Linked DNA regions of Homo sapiens: all the other regions are reported to be linked to region 3. The links are microRNA targets in miRTarBase. Many come from high-throughput screens and were not tested one by one. Region 3 holds a microRNA gene; each other region holds the end of a gene's coding sequence.

What was found. Region 3 holds the annotated microRNA hsa-miR-3921 (UCUCUGAGUACCAUAUGCCUUGU, at 2,085-2,107, opposite strand). A microRNA usually pairs through its seed, bases 2 to 8, with sites in the 3' UTR of a target mRNA and lowers its output. Matches are read on the target gene's strand: a 7mer-m8 pairs with bases 2 to 8, a 7mer-A1 pairs with bases 2 to 7 and ends in A, and an 8mer does both.
Region 1: miRTarBase lists APIP as a target of hsa-miR-3921. Seed matches in the 3' UTR shown: 8mer at 559-566.
Region 2: the mRNA of ZNF616 is a reported target of hsa-miR-3921. The part of its 3' UTR that is shown has no 7-base or 8-base seed match.
Region 4: miRTarBase lists ARL10 as a target of hsa-miR-3921. The part of its 3' UTR that is shown has no 7-base or 8-base seed match.
Region 5: the mRNA of VMA12 is a reported target of hsa-miR-3921. Seed matches in the 3' UTR shown: 7mer-A1 at 2,246-2,252.

Annotation. Positions count from the first base shown.
Region 1 is chr11:34,879,818-34,882,986 of GRCh38, reverse strand. It overlaps APIP (APAF1 interacting protein), which reads left to right. Exons shown (of 7, transcript NM_015957.4): 7 at 171-692. The coding sequence ends at 270. Among named protein-coding and RNA genes, the nearest start is that of APIP, 35 kb to the left of the region's middle.
Region 2 is chr19:52,111,969-52,115,137 of GRCh38, forward strand. ZNF616 (zinc finger protein 616) reads right to left here. Exons shown (of 4, transcript NM_178523.5): 4 at 1,123-3,169. The coding sequence ends at 2,850. Among named protein-coding and RNA genes, the nearest start is that of ZNF841, 18 kb to the left of the region's middle.
Region 3 is chr3:99,962,241-99,965,409 of GRCh38, forward strand. MIR3921 (microRNA 3921) reads right to left here and starts at 2,158; the gene lies at 2,074-2,158. All of the region lies in intron 1 of CMSS1 (cms1 ribosomal small subunit homolog), which reads left to right. All of the region lies in intron 1 of FILIP1L (filamin A interacting protein 1 like), which reads right to left. All of the region lies in intron 1 of LOC105374010 (a long non-coding RNA gene), which reads left to right.
Region 4 is chr5:176,371,712-176,374,711 of GRCh38, forward strand. ARL10 (ARF like GTPase 10) reads left to right here. Exons shown (of 4, transcript NM_173664.6): 4 at 11-3,000. The coding sequence ends at 184. Among named protein-coding and RNA genes, the nearest start is that of MIR1271, 5.3 kb to the left of the region's middle.
Region 5 is chr17:28,360,836-28,364,004 of GRCh38, reverse strand. VMA12 (vacuolar ATPase assembly factor VMA12) reads right to left here. Exons shown (of 6, transcript NM_152464.3): 5 at 3,158-3,169; 6 at 322-2,848. The coding sequence ends at 2,753. SEBOX (SEBOX homeobox) reads left to right here. Exons shown (of 3, transcript NM_001080837.4): 3 at 1-499. Among named protein-coding and RNA genes, the nearest start is that of MIR4723, 1.8 kb to the right of the region's middle.

The DNA of each region.
Region 1 (3,169 bases), not on the chromosome of region 3:
TCTGTGTTTTAAAAATGTTGAGGGAAAAATAGAATTTTGGCCTAGAATTGAGAGAAAATACATACTAGGAACAAAGCAGAGTTAACTGCAAGAGAGGAGAAATGTGATTCTTTAGGATTGGAGAACTCTGTTTCGATAAACACTGGTTCTTTTTGCTTTTTCTTTTACAGGTGTGAGTGTTATGACTATTTATTTGATATTGCCGTATCAATGAAGAAAGTAGGACTTGATCCTTCACAGCTCCCAGTTGGAGAAAATGGAATTGTCTAAGCCAAAAGAAAGTCTAATTATATACAGAGATAAAGCTAAACGTAATTATTATTTAAATGAAAGCTATTTTTTTAAATGAATTGAAATTTTTCATGATGCTACTAATTTGCCACTAAATACTGCAAATGGTCACCCTGAATCTCTTCTGACATTGGATGTTATTTGCTTATATTCTTATAATTTTAAATGAGGGCACAGTGAAATGAAAATTTTATACTCTATGTTTCTGTTTATTTTTAAATCCTTAACAGCAAAATATTTGCCTTTAATTTCTTTTTTATATATACTCTCAGAGAATTCCTCTTAATTTTTAAAGATGCTGGTGATAATAAAATTCATTAGAAAATTTCCTCATTGTGGAATGAGCATTCTCTTGTTTTAATGTTGGTGTCAGAAAATAAATATGAAACATTAAGTCCAAATTTATCCCTCAATGTTAATGTCAAAATAATTTTATAGATTTCCCCTATTAGCTTTAGTGTTTCCCTGTGGTCTACAACAGGACACTCATTTTATATTGGGATCAGTTGTGAAATTCAGGTCAGGTGGTATCAACTCAAATTCCCTTAACCAAACAAATCTTGATCAAACCGATGATGTAATCAGAAAGTCCTTTCTTTAAAATTGTTTTAAATTTTAGGTTTGGGGGCCCACATGAAGGTTTGTTACATAGACAAACACATGTCACAGGGGTTTGTTGTACATATTATTACATCACCCGGGTATTAAGTTCAGTATCCAATAGTTATCTTTTATGCTCTTCTTCCTCCTCCCACCCTCCGCCATCAAGTAGACCCCAGTGTCTGTTGTTTCCTTCTTTGTAGTCATAAGTTATTGCCATTTAGCTCCCACTTAGAAGTGAGAACATGCAGTATTTGGTTTTCTGTTACTGTGTTAGTTTGCTAAGAATAATAGCCTCCAGCTCCATCCATGTTCCCGCAAAAGACATAATCTTGTTCTTTTCTATGGCTGCATAATATTCCATGGTGTATATGTACCATATTTTCCTTATCCATTCTGTCACTGATGGGCATTTAGGTTGATTCCGTGTCTTTACTCTTGTGAATAGTGCTGCAGTGAACATTTGTGTGCATGTGTCGTTATGGTAGAATGCTTTATATTCCTTCAGGTATATACCCAGTAATAATAGGATTGCTGGGTCAAATGGTTGTTCTGCTTTTAGCTCTTTGAGGAATTGCCATACTGCTTTCCACAATGTTTGAACTAATTTGCACTCCTACCAACACTATGTAAGGGTTCCCTTTTCCCTGCAACCTTGCCTGTATCTGGGTTTGTTTGTTTTTTCTTTTTTTTTTTTTTTTTTTTTTGTGACAGTCTTGCTCTGTCACCCAGGCTGGAGTGCAGTAGCACCATCTTGGCTTACTGCAACCTCCATCTCCTGGGTTCAAGCGATTCTCCTGCCTCAGCCTCCCAAGTAGCTGGGATCACAGGCATGCTACCACCCCCGGCTAATTTTTGTATTTTAGTAGAGACAGGGTTTCGCCATGTTGGCCAGACTGGTCTCAAACTCCTGGCCTCAAATGATCCGCCCACCTCGGCCTCCCAAAGTGCTGTGATTACAGGCATGAGCCACTGCCCCCAGCCTGTTTTCTGGATTCTTGGCGGAGGTTCTTCCACTGGGGAAAAATAGTTTTAGCCACCTCTGGTTAATTTCATTTTCCTCATTTTAAAATGCAGCTAATGAATAAGATAAAGTATGTGGAGGAACAAACCACAATGCTTAATCCAGTGTAGATGTTCAATAAATATTAGTGTTTTTTAAAATCCCTTTTAATCCTCATAATAGTCTTTTGAGATAGATATTGTACCTATTTTCTTAGATGAGAAAATTGAGGCTCAGATAGGAATAATAAATATGTAGAATTTAAATAAGAGAAAACAGGTAAACTTCTTAACACAGTACCTGTCATATACTATGTATGCACTCAAAATATAAACTTCCTTTCCTAAAAACCCCTCACCTAGCTATCTTCAAAGTAATTGTCATGCAGGTAAACCATTTAAACTATACAGCAGCAGCAGCACATCTCCAGTTGTATATTTCTTTCCTGGGAGTGCAGAAAAGATTGCAAAACCTGCTTTAGAGGTAGGGGAACAGCTGGTGGAAGGCTGTATCCCCTAGTTAATATCCTTTTTTTTTAAGAATATGATCCCTCCTGTGTGACTGCTAGGAGCCAAGGTCCAAAGATGAATACAAATCCAGGCTGGGAGCTAATCCTCAGTGCCTGCCACATAGGTGTTCAGTGAATGAGGGAGGGGGAAGCAGGCATTCTTCTTCACATGCCCTTGTGATTGTTGTTCTCTCAGTTATTCCAGCTTCTTTAAATAAGAGGAAAATTTGGTTATGAATGCAGGATTAAACTGCTAAGAGATCTAGATCAAACACATTTTTTATTTCATTAAGTGCAGGACATGCCATTCACTCTCAGATTGAATAAGGGACTATCATTTGTTTCTCAAATGATTCTAGAGGCTTTTGGTCCCACCCAACTTTCTTGTGAGAGATACTTCAAAATAACATAGTTCCCTAGAGAATGTCCCAAAATCCGAAAGGTAAAGTCATAATCTTAAGGAGTGTTTCATTTTATATCTCAATTTGTTCAAATACCTCCCTTTTGAGAAAATTTTGCCATGTCTCATCAGCAGTTCTAGTCAAGATGGTCAGATGTGGAACTAATAATGTTGACATCACTATTCAAGAGGCAATTTGAATTCTCCCACCAAGTTTCTTTAAAGCAGGACTACAAGGCCCAGCACAGTGGCTCACGCCTGTAATCCCAGCACTTTGGGAGGCTGAAGTAGGCGGATCACCTGAGGTCAGGAGTTTCGAGATCAGCCTGGCCAACATGGTGAAACCCCATCTCTACTAAAAATATTT
Region 2 (3,169 bases), not on the chromosome of region 3:
GGGCAAAAATCTATGTTGTTTGATTTCGCCATAGAAAACAATTGTCGCACATTATTTTAACCAGCAGAGTGTAATGCAGTGTCTGTTAGAAGTTCTTTACTAAGGTGGGATAAATCTGTGTTGGTGAAAGGAACGTCACTGAGTTACGAAAACGAATAACATTTTATTAATTGAACCATGAGACTTCTGATACATTTTGAATGTAACAGCAGTAAAATATAGAGTAAATACTTCAATGTGAATCTGGCCTGTGACCATGCTATTCTGATTCTTTTGATTAAATTCTCCTCTCTGATAACTGCTGTCTTCCACTTCCAAGAATAAGACTAATTTTACATTTATCTTTGCTATATAACAGCTGTCATTCAATGGAGATGATCATCATTTCCTCTGCATTATTTCTCCCACACAATCCATCCCTAGTAACCTATCACTTGCCTCTCATGAATACCCTTAATATTCCATCAATGTCCTCACTGGTATTTCAGTCAGTTGGTTGTGCAATTATTTTCTACAACCCAAAGTGGCACTCTACGTGTTCATGGACACCTGGAACACAAGCACAACTTACATCATAAACTTACATTATTCTCCCAGTTACTCCATGGTGTGTAACTCACAGAATATTGAATTTTAAAATTCAGTGACCTTAATCTTCAGGAAGCATGGAAATGAAGGAGCCACACTGAATGAAGGAGGCTCTCTCATCTTGTTGATTCATTCCCAGATACCACAATGAAGGATATGTAAGGAAGATGATAGACTTCAAACCTTAGGATAAACGTCATAGTCTAGTAGCTATTTTAAGAAACGCCCCATTGGCCAGGTGTGGTGGCTCATGCCTGTAATCTCAGCAACGTGTGAGGCCAAGGTGGCAAATCACTTGAGGCCAGGAGCTTGAGATCAGCCTGGCAAACATGGTAAAACACCATCTCTACAAAAAAATATAAAAATTATCTGGACATGGTGGCATGACTGTAATCCCAGCTACTTGGGAGGCTGAGGCACAAATTGCTTGAAACCAGGATGTGGAAGTTACAGTGAGGTGAACTGGTGCCACTGCACTACAGCATGGGGAACAGAGCAAGACTGTCACAAAAGAAAAAAAACAGAAACCTCAAATTTAATGTAATATTTTATAAACTGAATGAGCCATTTTCACACATGCACTTGCTCCTTTAAAATACATACTGTCCTGAGTTTTAACAAATGTTGTCTGGTAGTTATTCTGTAATAATATTCCAGGCCAATCTTGGAGAAGCAGATTTGGTTATCCCTAGTATGATTTCAAAGATGTGTAGTCTGTTTAAAAAACTGGTTGAAATTTGTGCCACATTGATTACATTTCCAAGTTTTCTCTCAAGTAGGGATAATTTGGTAAAGGCTGAAGACACACTACTGCTTCCAGGTCCTTTCATGTTCAGCATACTTACAGGATTTTTCTCCTTTATACGTTCAATCAAACTGCAAAGGCGTGGACATTGGTTTTGTCTCACTTTAAGTTCTGGGTACATGTGCACAATTTGCAAATTTGTTACATAGGAAAATGTGTGCCATGGTGGTTTGCTGCATCTACCAACCCATCACCTGGTATTAAGGCAAAAATGCATTAGCTATTTGTCCTGATGCTCCACTTCCCTGCCCTTCCCACCCCCATCAGCAGGCCCCAGTGTGTGTTGCTCCCCTCCCTGGGTATATGTGTTCTCATTGTTCAGCTTCCACTTTTAAGTGAGAACATGTGCTGTTTGATTTTCTGTTCCTGTGTTAGTTTCCTGAGGATAATGGCTTCCAGCTCCATCCACATCGCTGCAATGGACATGATCTCATTCCTTTCTATGGCTGCATAGTATCCCATGGTGTATATGTACCACATTTTCTTTATTCAGTCTATCACTGATAAGCATTTGGGTTGATTCCAGGTCTTTGAACATTTCATTTTTTAAAACCATTTATTTGGAAGGTTGTCTCTAGTATGAATACTCTTTCCATTTTGATGTTCGGGTAAAAACCTTAGCATGCACATTACATTTCTGTGGTTCCTCTCAAAGATGTATATTCTGATGCCTAGTGAGTTCCAATGCCTGGGGAAAGCCTCTGACACATACATTTATATGATTTCCTTTCAGTATAAACTCTCTTATGACAAGTAGTGATTGAACTCTAGTAAAGGTTTTGCCACCCTCATTTCATTTCATACATCTATGCCCTTTTAATTACCTAGATTTACAAGTTCTGGCTTTTGAGTAGAATTCTTGCCACACGTATTACACTTCTGTGATTTTTCTCCAGGATGTATACATCCTGGAATATATATACAAATTCTTACACCTAGTGAGTAGTGAATACTAGCTTAAAACTTAGGTATATTTACTGCATGTGTAAATGTATTAGGTCATAACTGCATTGCTACAAAAAAAAACCTGAGGCTGGCTAATGTATAAAGAAAAGAGTTTAATTGGCTCATATTTCTGAAGGCTTAAATGAAAACATGGTGCTGGCATCTGATCACCCTCTAGGGAAGCCTCAGGAAGGTTAAAATCATGGTGGAAGGCAAAGCGGGTGTCGGTATTTCACATGGTGAGAATGAGGGCAAGCGACAGGGAAGTGCTATGCACTTCTAAACAGCCAGACCTCAAGAGAAGTCACTATTGCCAGGACAGCACCAAGGGGATGACGCTACATCTTTCTCAGTTTGAGAAATCCACTTCCATGATTCAATCACCTCCCAATGGGCCCCACCTCCAATACTGGAGATTACAATTCCACAGGGATTTCAAGAGAAGGGGTAAATATACAAGGTATATCAGTAAGTAGGAATTATTCGGTGATTCCAGAAACTAGGACAACGTCTAAGGCCTTGTCACATTGAGTTTAGTTGTAAGGCTCTCTCCAGTATGTCTTATTCGATGTTTAGTGAGGCCTGAGCGACAAATAAAAGATTTCCCACACTCATTACATTTATAAGGTTTTTTGCCAGAATGAATTCTTTGGTGTTTGCTGAGGGAAAACAACCGCCCAAAGGCTTTGCCACATTCAATACATTTGTATCTTTTCTCTCCAGTGTGGATTCTCTGGTGACTTACAAGATGTGAACTATGCCTGAATACCTTGCCACATTCATCACATTTATATGGTTTCTTTCCTGCATGAATTATCTGATGTGCAGTGA
Region 3 (3,169 bases):
AAACAGATGCAGAAATGCTAGGGCAGAAACCAGGGCTAACAGTGGGAAGATGAGGTCGCATGTGATGGGAGAGTGGAAGATGATGGGCAGTCCTCATCAGGAAGGATATTTATTGTTCTCTTGGGAACATAATTACTATGGGCAACATAAAAGGTTCTGCATGAGGTCATTTAGGTTTTGGAATATTTTGTATATTATCTTTTGTTGTTAGAGAAAGGATATATTCAGTCATTAGGGTTAGACAGATATAGCTCTTTCAGTAGCATGACCATTTCTCCAGCAACAATATGTTTGGAGAAAGAAGAGGAAGAGATAATATTGTTTTAACATTCTTATGACTGTGAGAAACTTTGGTGGCTTTTATACACAGGATTATAATTAATAATAACAACAACAACAGCAACAAACACATATAGCACTGTAGGCCTGGTCCTGTTACAGTAAGAAATAGAATGTCCACATTAACTCTATGAGGTAGGTATTATCCTCAGATACAGTTAGTTTAAATAACTTCCCAAAAGTTAGAAAGCTAAGTGGGAGAGCTAGGATTTGGCTGCAGCCCCTAAGAACAAATTGGGAAAGATTTAAGTCATAGATGAAGTACTCTGAGGGTGCCTTAAGACAATGGCTGTAGCCTGCTGTTTATGGTCACAACTACATACTCACTGGAATGTTCATGGCCGAGATAAATAAAGCAAGTATTCATCCATATTTCACATGTTACTCACAGGCATTGCTGCATGGAAGAGATTGCTCTCTTGATGGATTTTAGGAGCTAGCCTGGGTTTTACCAGCCGTTGAGGTTGCTTGCAGCCTTAGTTTCTCTCCCTGCCTTCTGCCACTGTCAAAGAGGGTTTAGCCTGCCTACAGAGGGTAAAATAATTAGGATAACAGTGCACCAGAGAAAGTTCGAAATGCTCTTACTCTTAGGGAAACCTTTCCAAATCAAGCCACTTAATGCTAGCAACCATGAAGGTATAGTTGCCCCAGAATAGTGTGTGGTTTTCCACTAGCAGTGATTTTACCCTAGTGTTGACTGATCCCATGTGGTGGATATATGCAGGTAAGTGCTTCTTGGGAACAGAAGGGATGAAGATAAATAAGAGAAAGTTTGAAGTCATGATCCGTGGAGCCTGTGCTATATAGGAAAAGAAGTAAAAATAAGAGTGGGCTGTTATATAAGGATATAGCACAGAAGTAAGGGGCTGACGGTCTCTGTGGGTCCAAAAAGAAGTGAAGTGGGAGCAACTGCTTGAAAGTATTAGAAGGATAAGAAAGAATGTTGATTGAGCGGGATATTTACATTTTGTGTCAGAGAAGACTTTTAGCACTCCTCTTTGCCTTGATGGTGTTACCTGAATATGCATCCATTTTTTTTTTCTTTTTTTTTAGACGGAGTGTCGCTCTGTAGCCCAGGCTGGAGTGCAGTGGCGTGATCTCGGTTCACTGCAGCCTCGCCTCCAGGGTCCTGGTTCGAGCAATTCTCCTGTCTCAGCTTCCTGAGTAGCTGGGGATTACAGGCACACGCCACCATGCTCAGCTAATTTTTGTATTTTTAGCAGAGACAGGGTTTCACCATGTTGGCCAAGCTGGTCTTGAACTCCTCATCTTGTGATCTGCCTGCCTCAGCCTCCCAAAGTCCTGGGATTACAGGTGTGAGCCACCGCGCCCAGCCACATCCATTTGTTAATGACTTAATTAAAATGTGTCATAACGAAAATGATCAGTAGGCCAGGCAGGAGCTCCCAGGTACAACCAAGGTGAAGCTGATTTCACATGACTTTATAATCTTCAAGCCCATGTTTGAATATTTGAACATAATAATTGTTATGTGATTAAATAAAAACAGAGGGCATAGACTCGTTCTGTGGTGCAGATTTACCCTATAGACTTATATGCTCAGTAGGAAGTACATTGAGTTTTTATAAGCAGTGATAATTCTATCTTCCAAATCCATTACGCTTCAGTTAGATTTAATTTTTATTTATCAATATTTATCTTGATTAATGATCTTACCTCTAGCTAGGTTACAGGTTCCATGAGAATAGGGACAGTGTCTGTGTCTAGTTTCTCCCTAGCCCAGTACAAGGCATATGGTACTCAGAGACTTAGGGATTTCTAAGTCTCTTGAGTACCATATGCCTTGTACTGGGCTAGGTGATGTTTAGGATGGGTCCTTAAACAGGATCAAGGCCAAACCACTTACATTATAGTGAGGCAGTCAAGGTCCTGACAGGTAAGTGATCTGCTCAGGGCTCAGAGCTAGGTAGTGAGAAAGCCTGTGCCAAAACCCAAATCTCATTCCTCACTCTGTTCTTTGCACCATATCACTCTGACATTGAATCAGGTTCTTGTAGTGATCTTCTCTGTGTGTCTAGGGCCAAAAGGAAATGTGTTTCCTAAGCTAGAGCTTCCCAACCTGTTTCTCAATATGGCTCACAGAGAAGCTGGGAATATTTGTCTAGAACAGTATGGTAAACAAAGGAGGCTTTGGAGGGCAGCCGAAGAAAGAGGTCCCCTAGGAGACTAATGCCCAGAAACCTCCAGGCTACCCAAGGGGGATCATACCTTCACACACCTCTCATCTACTATGCTCCCTGTAACTGTGGAAAAACTCTTTCCTAAGTTAATATTAGATCACTTGAACATCAGTCCCATAGTGCACAGATACAATAGTTTCCCAGGCTTTAAGACTCTGTATAAAAATTGTTCTTCAAACCAAAAAGAAACATGATCCTTTTCATTGTATTTCTTGAAGTACCTGATATACTTAGATACTGCTGTATCTGTAAATAAATTATGATACCTTATAAAGTTTTAAAGGAAATTTACAAGTGTTATTTTCTAGTAATTACCTTGAAAGATTACATTGGTCCAGGAAAATGTTTTCTGAAGCAATGTTAATCCTACTAGCCAAGCATATCACTTAGTCCCCACTGTGAGATGAGGGATATGTGCTTAAATTGTGAAACAAATATATGAGTCAGGTATTTTTCCTTTGAGTCCAAGTGGTTTATGACTTTCTTTCCTGTGTTCTTTGTATATGTGGGAGTTTTATAATTTTTTATCAAGAATGAAAGGTTGGCCTGTGTTCTTACTGGTGCAGGCTGTCACATTTCTCTCTGTTGCCCAGTCAGGTGCTATGGCATGTGCTGCTTCTGGCGTAGTG
Region 4 (3,000 bases), not on the chromosome of region 3:
TCTCACCCAGGACCTGAGCGAGGCCATGAGTATGGGGGAGCTGCAGCGGGAGCTGGGTCTACAGGCTATCGATAACCAGCGGGAGGTTTTCCTCTTGGCAGCCAGCATTGCCCCTGCAGGACCCACCTTTGAAGAGCCTGGCACCGTGCACATCTGGAAACTGCTCTTGGAGCTCCTCTCCTAGGCTGGAGCTCTCCTGCTTGCCACCTGCCTGTCAAGACCATAGTTGTACTGCTGCTGCTTCATTGCCAGACTGGGCCTGGGGCAAGAGCCACATGGCAGCATTTCCCTTTTCCCCTCCTTTGCCTTTCAAGAGCAGGGCCTGGGCAAGGCCAAGAACCATGCAGAAGCCTTCCTGGTGAGGTGGCCGTGAAGCCGAAGCAGGGAGGTGGGTGAGACAGAGGGTGGGGAGGATAGTGTCTGGCTCATTCCAGGCTGGAATGTGGATCCAGCTTTCCCTTCTCTTACCTGTACAGTGAGATGCTCAGTGGGCTCAATCCTCCACTACAGGTCCCGGTACCTGAGGAACCAGTGTAGGTGTCAGAAATACTCCTAGAGCCTCAAGGTCTCCCAGTCCAGAAACAGTCTGGTGACGTCATGCCCTTCTCATGTGGGCAGCTTCTGAGTGGTGACACAGCAAGCCTTTGTTCCTGTCCTGCATTGTCCAGCCCCAGCTCCACCTAAGTGACTTGTGGCCTTGTGCAATCTCTGCCTCTCTGACCCCAGGGCCATTATTTTTAAAGGGAGGTGGTTTCCTAATTCGGAGATGCCTTTCCCAGCCATGGGAGTGTGAAGTGCTAGGATGAACCTGGCCATCCTAGCAAGGAGCTTTCTGAAGACCTCCCTGCCTTTCCCTGAGCCCAGGCCTGGCCTGCCAGCCTCTCTTGACTACAGAATAACTGATATTCACCCACCAAACAGAAAAAGTGAAGGCTGGGTTTTTCCCCTCTAATCTGGAGACAAGCTGCTGCTCTCGTACTAACTGTGCCAGTGCCCATGTTTACAGAAGTCAGGGGAAGGAAGGAGCCTGTGTCCCTGGGACGACAGTCAACTGGAGCTAGGTGTTGACCTCAGAACTGCATTTTATTTATTAATTTATAAGCAGAACAGGCCAGAGTTCTAGGCTCTGTTTCTAGGTGCTGTTTTCAAAACCCCAGATGACAGTCATAGAAAATTTGGAACTTAGGAAAATAGCTGGAATCATGAATGACAATGAGATAACATACAGATGTCAGTGGAGACAAAGTTGTGGGTTCCTCCTCCCACCTGGCTTTGAGGCTGTCGTCGATATCATAGTACTTTACATGGATTCACATGAACTGAAACGCCACCACTTGGCCCAGGATGTTGAAAGGGTGCAAATTCCTTCTGGGTAGATAAGAAATGACTCTGGGAGAGGATTTCCCTTATGTGAATCTAGGTAAAAAGATGGAAAAAAATTGTATTATGTGATCCTAAGGACAGGAATAGCAGACCAGCCAACGGGATGGCCTTGGGTACATCACTCAGCCTTTCTGGACCCAATTTTTCCCCAGTGAAAGCCAAGTTGGACTGAATTTCTGGAGTTCTCATCAGTGCACATTCCATAGTTCTCCAGTGCTTGGCGATCAGCCCAATTGAAGGACTGGCTCTGTACTGACACTTATTATCGGTACAGGCAAAGAGGAGCCTGTTGTCTGTTAGGGACCACTAAATCAACAACCACAAATGGATTTTTTTTTTAAGAGGAGCTGTGCACCTCAATTTGCTGTCTAGTTGAGAATAGAGATTGTGTGCCTTCATTTCATTTGACATTTACCCAGCATGCCTCAGTTCCACACCGTGACCAGTGTAAGAAGAGGAACTATGATAAAAACAGTTCAACAAGCCGCAAGGAGGGTGGGAAATTCTGAAGTCCAGAAGCGAGTGTGATCTTTGGAATAGTGGCTGCTGTGCCCTTGGGCGCCATTTGAAGAATCACTGTTCTTGAAAGTGCTGGTTCACTTTCTGCAGTAAGAAGTGATTTATGGGCTTTTATGTAAAATTTTAAGAATGACTTGGGTTTCAGAGTAGCCTTTGAAACTTTGCTGGCAGCTTTTCATTTTGTCATTGGAAGGCTAAGAGACTTTTCTCCTTTGTTCTATGAACTCCTTGTTCTTCAGGGCTTGAAGGCAAAAAAACCTTAGACAACTTTAACGAAGTTTAAAAAGTATGTTCTGTTTTTGAGCAGAAAAAAGATTCGTGAACTGGTTAGTACTTAGCACCAAAAGCAGTTCAGAATGCTCAGCCCCACAATGTGTGTAGGCTACATTTATAGCCAGAGAAACGAAAATAACTTAGGTTGCCTGATTGGCTGCAGTCTGGCATTTGCCTTACCTGAACATGTTTTAGCAGCCTTCAGCCGACGATTGACTGAAGGTTTGGCTGCTGTGATTGGCTAAAATTCGGCTACTTGTTAGAAGAACATACTTTTAGGTTAGGTTACGAGTTGTTTACACGTTAAGTTACAATTCACTGTGTACAGAGGCAGCTTTAGGCCAGACTTAATTCAGCTTCACAGTGTCCCTCATTTTGCTCAGCCCCTTAATTTTGAGAGATTGACCAAAATCCCACGCACTGACACTACCTTCTGTCACTATTTGACCTCATTATGGAACTCACAGTTTACAATGTTAAATCAGTTAGCGGATTCTGTATGTCTTCATGTTTCTGTTACTCTAACCGTAATGAGACCATTTGAGGTACAAAGGATGACTGCATTGGTGTACTTAAGACTACAACACATCAGTGGGGACCTTAGGATGGCTATCAGGAGTGTAATACCAAGAAACTGGAATGCATCCCTTAATATGAGTCTCCACAAACCAAACTGATTGGAATCAAACAACTCAAGTTCAGACGATAAAAATAGTTCAACAGCGTGCAAGCTCTGCTGCTCATAGCCTGTTCAGGGTATAATGGCAATTAAGGACATAGTTCACTATGAAGTACCTTAATTGTAAAGTGTTTGATTTTTTAGTT
Region 5 (3,169 bases), not on the chromosome of region 3:
GTGGTACCTTCAGAAGGATGAGATGAGGGTCATGTTTTCCTCCACTCTTGCCAGGCCTGGTCCCCAGTTCTCACCAGCTGATGGCCTCCTCCTTCTGAAGGGGCAGGCTCCTGTCTCCTGAGGTCTCTCCAGGCCATTACCTTGCTAACTGCTAAGTGAGGTAGGAGAGGAGAGTGCTGCTCCTCATCTAGACTGCTGGAGAGCCAACTTCTTTATGGGTCAGGGCCCCCTCTCTTGACCATCGACCACCTGGACAAATTAATCAGAACTACGGATGTGAAGAGGGAGTGGCATTAAAGTAATGAAGCAAAGATAGGAAGCTGGGGCTTATGTTGATTTAATTTTCACAAAGATCAGATTGGATGCCCTCTGATGTGGGGCTGTGGAGACAACCTGACAGATCTGGGATGGAGGCAGGTATAGCAGCATTGGGTTTTGGTATCACCATCACCTGTAATACCAACTAATCTCCAAATAAAACCCAAACTCTGTACCTTAATCTGGATTGTTGTGCTCTGCAAACGAACGGGGACGAGGGCCGTTTGCCATGGAAATTTATCTCCATCACCTAATCCCTAAATAGGGCCAGGTTCCACACAGATACCTCTTGGTGGGAGGTATTACCCAGGCTTCAGCTGGGATTAGAGGGATAGTTAATTGAAGGGTTTAGGACTCTGACTGACAAGACCCTGGGGAGATGAGAGCCTCTGCTAGCACCCCCAGCTCCTGGTCCCACTGAATCTAGGACATTCCAGTCACCTCCACCTCTGGAGCTGCTCTGCTTTGGAGAGAAAACCATGGTGTTTGCGGTCTGCACTGGATTCAAATCCTGACTTTGCGATGTAACTGTGGCAACTCTGGAACTCTATGTGACTAAAAAATGGGGATACTTATTTGCTCTCTGTTTGGGGTATAAGAAATAATGTAGGTAAAGGGCTTTACATGGTGTGTAACACATCGTAAAAACTCAGTAAACGCTAGTTCCCTCTCCAGACAGGCCCTAAGAAACTGGGAAGGCCCTAAACTTCTTGTTCTTCCCACCTCCTGCCAAGCAGTCCCTGGACCCAGAGTGCATTACAGAAAGCATGGCACAGTGAGGCAGGAGTGGCTAGCAGATGAGAGAGCTCCCTTCTATATGCTGAGAACTGGAGGATAGGGCATTTGGTTCTCCCCTCCCAGTGCCCCCTGCTTTTTCATTGAGACAAGGTCTCACTCTGTCATCCAGGCTAGAGTGCAATAGCATGATCTTGGCTTACTCAGCTTACTGCAACCTCTGCCTCCCAGGCTCAAGTGATCCTCCCACCTTAGCCTCCTGAGTAGCTGGGACTACAGGCGTGCGCTACCATGTCAGCTAATTTCTGCGTTTTTTTGTAGAGATGGGCTTTTGCCATGTTGCCCAGGCTGGTCTCAAACTCCTGAACTCAAGCATCCTCCCACCTTGGTCTCCCAAAGTGCTGGGATTACAGGCATGTACCACCACGCCTGGCTAATTTTTTTGTATTTTTAGTAAAGATGGGGTTTCGCTATATTGGCCATGCTGGTCTTAAACTCCCAACCTCAAGTGATCCGCCTGCCTCAGCCTCCCAAAATGCTACGATTACAGGTGTGAGCCACCTCACCTGGCCCAGTGTAGCTTTTTAACACAAATTTTATATAGCTCAGGTTACTGGAAACACTGTAAAATGCCACCTACTTTTTCTTTTCACAGCTGACACTTCTCCCAACTAACAGAAACTGGCAAACATTGTAGAGGAAGTGTCCACTGAGTGAATGAGTATATAATTTATGAAAACAGAAAAGTGCTTTGGAAAAAAAAAAAAAGACAACAGGAGTACATACAGTGAACCAAAAAGAGTGTACCAGGAGGAGCAGACCCTGAACAGTTAGAACTATGGAAATCGCTATGCTTTGTGTTGTCACAGGAGTTAAAATAGGAATACCCTGCATACAATAAATATTTATTGGATAAATAACTAAGCCTGATACCCTTTTCAATGCGTTATACAGACTCTATCATCACACCACTAATCTAAGTTCTCAGAAGTTAAACATTACAAGACTTCAGAACAACATAGGCGTCTTTGGCTCCATTTAACAGAAGAAGGACCATAGTGATCATTTAATCTCTATGAGTCTGTCTTATCTTCTGGAAAAGGGGCCTAACACCATTTCCTTTTGCAAAAAGGTAGCTGCCTTGCTTCCAGTTCTACCATCCTCTAGCAACCCATCTTTCTCTTATTTGATGTCTCTGATCAGCTCCTCTTCCAGCACAAACTGGAGAAAGGGGATCCTTTCTGTTTTCTTGGAGGCTTCTGAACTCAATTACAGGTCTGCATTAAAAATGTATGGAGAAAGCTGGTGATCAGTTTGTACATATGGACAAGTTCAAGGCAGTATGGTCTACTTCTGGGAAGGCCTGGATTCCATTTGCTCCTGATGGAAAAACCCTAGTCCCAGCAGTGTTTAGAATGAACTGGAGAAGGCAGATGGGTACCAGATTCAGGAAGAGGTACTGATAGACCAAGACCAGTTCTTTCTGTTTTAAAGATGTGTTATCTCAATCTCCTCCAATGCTCCCTTTGGAAATTCACAGAAGATTAGGGCTCCCCACAGAAACAGCAGCTGGCCTGGGCTGGTCTTCTGACTAACTGGAGCTGAATACAAAAAGTCTGATGGGTTGACTGAGTCGGTGACTGCCAATTGGAGCCTGAAGCCCCCAAAGTCTTCTCTAGACTTGATGATGAAGCACCAGTTACAGTTCTCCCAGCTCGCCTTCCATTGCCCGCACCATGACATACAGCTCGGCCAGACCCACCACAGAGGCGACGATCAATGCAGCTAGCACCCGCTGGAGATGGGGAGAACCAGGCTTAAGGGATGCAGGCCAACAACCAGCTCTGTACCCCAGCAACTTTAATGAGGATGGAGAGCCCCCCAACCACCCTCTAAGTTGGGGGAGGGGAAGAAAAGAGAATGTGGCTTCTCCTGGGGTTATTACCTAACCTCCCGTGACTGCTGGAAAGCTCTAATGCTCCCCTTATTAATGGCATAAATATCTGTTCAATACCTAACCTGTGCAAGGCACTTTCACATACGTCCTCCCTTACCCACTAACACCCCCACCAGGGGCACCCTGCCCTGCCCAGTGCCTACTCACCGAGGCCATTTC